Linked DNA regions of Homo sapiens: region 1 is linked to region 2. The links come from fine-mapping of genetic effects on gene expression. A gene starts in region 2. The other region holds a variant in brackets. All regions are shown on one strand. Distances are between the middles of the regions. Region 1 holds the start of LOC107985377 (a long non-coding RNA gene). Region 2 holds the start of WNT4 (Wnt family member 4).

The links. PIP is the estimated chance that this variant, and not a neighbour inherited with it, causes the effect. A credible set is the group of variants that fine-mapping cannot tell apart.
Region 1: its variant is the best candidate, but not a certain one, in a credible set for the expression of WNT4 in nasal epithelium (TOPMed, PIP 0.88).

Annotation. Positions count from the first base shown.
Region 1 is chr1:22,251,818-22,254,712 of GRCh38, reverse strand. LOC107985377 (a long non-coding RNA gene) reads right to left here and starts at 2,148. Exons shown (of 5, transcript XR_001737789.1): 1 at 2,039-2,148; 2 at 1,780-1,884. RefSeq lists enhancers at 1-95, 96-1,000. The variant A/C (reference allele first, on the strand shown) is at 1,408.
Region 2 is chr1:22,141,790-22,144,636 of GRCh38, reverse strand. It overlaps WNT4 (Wnt family member 4), which reads left to right and starts at 1,540. Exons shown (of 5, transcript NM_030761.5): 1 at 1,540-1,791. The coding sequence starts at 1,715. The region is part of intron 1 of LOC105376845 (a long non-coding RNA gene); the gene reads right to left. RefSeq lists silencers at 1,121-1,450, 2,013-2,072.

The sequences.
Region 1 (2,895 bases), 110 kb before region 2:
CCACTACCCTTGACCCTCTAACCCCTTCCCATTCCCTTCAGGAGCAAACCAGGCTCCCCAGGCTGGTGGGCTGGACCCCCACAATCTAGCCCTGCCTGCTTCTCCATGGCTGCTCCCCCAAAACACAGACATATCCCCTTTCCCTTTCGCAGAGTCCCCTACTTTTCTAAAAGTGGCTGCAACTCAGGATTCTTTCTGTCCAAGCACCCTCCACCCCTCAGCCTGACCCAATGCTTACTTAGCCCATAGCAAGTGCTCTTCAAGGGCTATTTGTATCGGAAACACTGACCTGGGAGAGCTGAATTCTGGTCCCAACCTGCTCCCACTCATTTGTTCAGACATGTCCCCTCCCTGCCCCTAAGGCTTGGGGTCCCCATTTGTACAAGGAAGGGCATGAGCTGGGAGCCCACCAGCTTGGAAAAATGCAAGTGTCTCCTCTCTCTCTGCTTGCCTGTCTCTCTCTTTCTGTCTCTTTCTCTCTCTCTCTCTCTCTCTCTCTCTCTCACACACACACACACACACACACACACACACACACACACACACACACACTGCCCATGCCAGCCTCTCCCCGGGACATCGGGCTTCTCCGTGGATTGAATTACCAACATTTCATCGGTGGGAGGAGGGGAGGTGGGGCAGGGGAAGGAGCTGTGAATTCCGCGCACTGAGCCTGTCCCCGCAAGGCCTGGACCAAATGCCACAGCGTGTCTGTGCCCATCTGCCTCTGGGCGGGGTATGGGTGGGGGTGGAGGTGCAGGCAGGGAGGGGCTCCCTAAAACTAGAATGCCAAAGAAAAGACACCGAGGGATCACACAGACTCACACACACTCTTTCCCACGGCCACTACTGCACATGCATGCATTCACGCATGTGCACGTGCTTAAACACACATGCATCTCCTCCACACACAGTCTCTCACATATGCGATCGTCCTTTTTATTTATTCAACAAATACCCATTGAGCCAGTTTGCCATGACAGCCTTGCTCTCCATCTCTCTTTTGTGAAACAGGCCCCCACATTTGGTCACACCCGCACACACACCCACGCCCTCAGTCGCTCACACAAACTCACACATCCCAAGGCTGGAGCTGCAGCCTCCTTCCAGAGCCCCGGGAGGGCCCTTGCAATGTGTTCACACGATGGTCAAAGCCAAAAAGAGAAATAAAAATCAGTAGTACAGGAATGTGCCAGGGAGTTAATTAATAAAAATATTATGATTTTTTTCTGGATTTGGTAATGTTTGTGGTATTTGTCAGCTTAAAAATTGAGTAATTCGTTGTGGTTTCTTTTCTCGTTTTAAAGTCTCTTTAGTATTTGTCATTTTGCATTCCTTTTAATAAAGAAAGTCCCCAAATTGAAGACATCTTGGCCCTTACCAAGCCTCACCCGCCTCTGCAAACAT[A/C]CAAATATTCAAACAATCACACCCACCCTGTCTCACACTCACACTGTTGCACATGAGTTCACACTCCCACACATTCTTATAAATCAAAGACTCGTCACACATGACCCAGTGTGCACGAGGCTCACCTACCTGCCCGCTGCAGACAGGCAGCCCACCCAGGGCACCCCCGGCCAGGCCCGACCTCAGGGCAGACCAGACCCCATCTCTCCAGCCTCCCAGGCTCCTGGCCTCTGACTGCAGACACTTGGCACTCCCTTGCCTACGGCCAGCTCCCAAAAGCCCCACAGCTGCTTGCCACAGACGCCGACCACTCACCCTCCCGCTCCAACCCTGGAACTGGACCATAAGCCACACACCCTGATTCTTTCTCACCTTGGACCCTCGGATGCTCCATGCCCAATGCCGCCTCAGCAGGTAACCACTGAAACCCACAGAATGTTCTGGAGTTTCCTTGGAGACCTTGTTGCCCATAGGTGGCTGGTATGGAAAAGAGGATATAAGAATTGGAATTGTACAGCCTTTCCTGGGTTCAAATCCTGACTCTAACGCCTGCTCTGTGCTCATGGGCAAGTGAGCACACCTCACTGAGCCTCAGTTTCCCCATCTGTAAAATGAGGGGCAATCATCTTACCTTAGAGGCATGTTGGGAGGATTAACTGAGCAAACACAAGCAAAGCACAGAGCGAGAGCCCAGTGCACAGTAGCGGTCATTACCACTTTTCTTCTCCACGACAGCAGGAAGGTGAGGTTGGAGCCCCGTCCCCTCGGGACTGGCCCCTCCTCCAGCCCCCAGCCCAGTCCAGCCCCCTTTCCCTGTTGCCTCAGCCACATCGCCCTCTCGGCCACCCGAGTGTTAGGATCCCAGCGCACCTGCTTCCAAGGGCTCTAATTTCCTGTAAGTGTAAGAATTCAGGTCAGACACGGCCCGCGGCCTGCAGCCCCCCTCCCGGCGGAAACCATAAATAACCCAGCTCCGCCAGCCTGGCCCAGGCACGAGACTTTCCCTCCTTACCCACTGTGCCAGGCAGGTACAGCGATTTCCATTCACACACAGGGAAACTGAGGCCGTAGAGAGGAATCTGAGTTTGAGATCCTGACCAGTGCACTAGAAAAAACTTCCATCAAAATATGCCCTTCCCACGCCCCCTGCCAAACAAATACCTCTCCTCTAATTCCCAACTGGCCAGTGACTTACACCTGAAATCTGCCCATTAGTGTGGGGGAGCCAACAACCTTTTCCTCTAAGGGCCAGAGAGAAAATATTTTAGCACTTGAGGGCCAGACAGTCTCTGTTGCAAGTACTCCACTTTGCTGATGTAGCCATAGACAGTGCAGAGACATTATTTTTTTCACAAATGCAGGCGCCCAGCTGGATTCGGCCATGGCTTGCCCACCTCTATGCTGTACCTCAAGCCCCTCCACCACACTGCAAATGAATTGAGTCTAGAATCCAAGACTGGCACAGCTCGGGCCCTTAGAGTTAGAGAT
Region 2 (2,847 bases):
ATTTATTTTGCATTTTGTTAGCTTGATTTATAGCCTGCAAATATTTGGACATATGGTATGTGAACCTCCATCTATACTCTTGCCCAGCCCCACAAATCCCTGCCACGTTCCACCCAGTCCCAATACCAAATGTTTACTGAGCCCTTCCTCTGTTCTGAGCCCAGGGGACCCCAGGGCACCATCCCAGCACCCAAACATGATGGCCTCTGTGGGAGCAAACTTCATACTCCAAAATCAGTGAAGAACTAAGATCAGGGGGTGAGGGCATAGACCTGGTCCTTGCCTCTGTTCCCAACCCCTAGGGAGGTGGGACAGGTGCCTCCCTTTCCGGGCCTTAGTTTTACTGTTTAGATAAGAGGTCCCTCTACCTGTGAGCAGCTGGGGGATGCAGCCTGGAGGATGAGTAGCACACAGAATCAGATCAGTGACCTGAGAGGGTGTGGCGTGGACTTGGGCAGACAATTCTTAGGGGTTACAGTGATGTGGAATTGAGCTCTCTGGACTAGCCAAGCACAGGCTGTTGCAGCCCATTCCATTCCATTCATTTATTCCTTCCACAAACATGGCAGGCACCGCCCTGTGCCCAAAACAAACAAGAGGCTGAATCTGCCTAGTATGGGAGGATAAATCGAACAAGCACATAGAAAACCAAATGCAAAGTAAGACTTGGTGAGTGAGCCAAGAGAGCTTCCCTAAACTCCTCCTGTCCTCCCAATCACAGCGTCTTAAGCCCACTTCCCGGATGAGAAAACGGAGGCTCAGAGTCAAGACCCTGCTGCCTGGGGCGCGCCCAGACCTTGTGGCTAGCCAGAAGCGAGGTTTCGGATTCCCACAGTCTCGGGCCACTGTCCCAAGCTGCCCAAAGCTGGGGAGGCCCCGTCCAGCTCCCGGAAGGCTGTAGGGAGGTGAGCGCCAGGGAGGGGCTGGGCCGCAGGACGCGGGGGCCAGGAGGCAGGGAGGGGCCGGGCGGGGGGCGGTCGGGAGACATCCAGCGCCCCGATGTGCAGCCCCAGGCACCCGGAGCGCCAGCGCCTGGGTGCGCGCGAGTGGTAGCCGCGCTCCGGTGGGTCCGCCGCGGTCGGACCGGGGTCTGGGCTCCAGGCGCCGGCGGGGGGCGGTGGGGGGGGTAGGGGGACAGCGAGGGCCGCGCTGCAGTGCCCGCAGCGGCGGGTTGGGGGAGCTGTGCCCGCCTGTCCCCTAGGCCCGGGCGGCGGCCGGGCAGCTGGGTCGCCGCGCCTCTAGCCGGGCCGGGCTCGGCGGCGCGCAGCCAGGCGTGCCTGGAGCGGGCTCGGGCCCCAAGTCCTCCGGAGCGCCCAGCCGGGGAGGCCCCGGGAGCAGCCCAGTCCCGCGGGCTAAGGCGGCAGCCGCCGCCGCTCCGGCCCGCCCCCGGGGGGGTGTCCCGGGCCGCTGGGCCCGCCCAGGTAACCCCATCCTCGGCCCGCCCCCGGCCCGCCCCCCCGGCCGCCCGCCCGCCCGCCCGCCTCCGCCGCCGCCGCCGCCGCCGCCGCCGCCGCATCCCGGCTCTGGGGCGGCGCTGACAGTCTGGTCCGCGCCGGGCAGCGGGCGCAGCAGCGGGCAGGCTGCCGGCAGGCACACGGAGGCAGAGCCCCGCCGCGCGCGCCCCGGCCCGCCCGCGGGCGCCCACCTGCAGCCCCGACGGGAGGCCCCCCGCGGCCGCAGCCGCTGCCCCGGGCCGGGCGCCCGCGGCGGCACCATGAGTCCCCGCTCGTGCCTGCGTTCGCTGCGCCTCCTCGTCTTCGCCGTCTTCTCAGCCGCCGCGAGCAACTGGCTGTAAGTCTGGCCGGGGCCGAGCGGGGCGGGGCGGGGCGGGGCAGGCCCCGGGGGCAGCGGCCGGTGCCAGGCGGCGCGGGGCAGCGGGCGCGGGGCAGCCCGGCAGGTGTCTCGGCCGCGGGACCGGAGGCTCGCTCGCTCCGCTGCCGCCGCCACGGCCCGAACGTCCCTCTGCACACCCGGGGTCCCCTCCTGCCCGGGTCCGGCTCCCTGCCCAGAGGCGTCAGGGGTGGCTGTGGCGGCGTCCGCACCGGTAGGCGGCTCGGGGCTCTCGAGGGCGCCAGGGGTGCGAGCGCGGGGCGGTGGCCCGGGAGGGGCGCCGGACGCGGGTTGCAGTCCAGCCGGGCTGACAGGTCGCTGAGGAAGCCCATTGCAGGGAAGGGCTCCGGGACATAATAGCAGGTTAATCCCGAGAAGTCCGGAGCGAGCTCCCAGCGCCGAGCTGCGCCGAGCTGCGCCGCGCTGCGGGCTGGGCTGGAGGCGTGCAGGGACCTGTTTCTGCTTGGGGGGCGGGAGCCGGAGACAGAAGGAAGGGACCAGGACGCCTGGTCTCCCAGGGCCCGGGGCTGGCGCTGGCGCTGGCCGGGCCTTGGTTTTTCCCCGGGGCAGGAAGAAACTCCGTCCAGACCTTAAAGAAGACAACGGCCCCCCAGCTCCCCGTGTCTAGCCTAAGGAGGAAGGGGTGGTAACCGCTGGTGACCTGTCTGTTTCTCCTTGACTGGATCTGCGCTCAGGGCGCTCCCTGGGTAGGGGCGGAAGGTTTGCTGCAGGGAGGGAGACTAAAGGGATGAGCTCCAGTGAGTGGGTGGACAGGGAGCAAGCGGACCCGCGCTCCTTTCATCCCCGCTCAGGGACAGTTCCCCATGCCCCGCGCTTAACCCTGGCCCCAGTTCCTCCTGCCCAGAGCTCTGCCACCATCCGCTGTGGGCAGCCAGTGGGGAGCCAAGCTCCAATATTGATCTGAAAAGCATGGGGTGGGAAGGGGGATCGCCAACAGTGTAGCTGGGGTTTCCATGGAGACAGGGAGAGAGGAAAAAATTCTCTCTGCATCAAGAC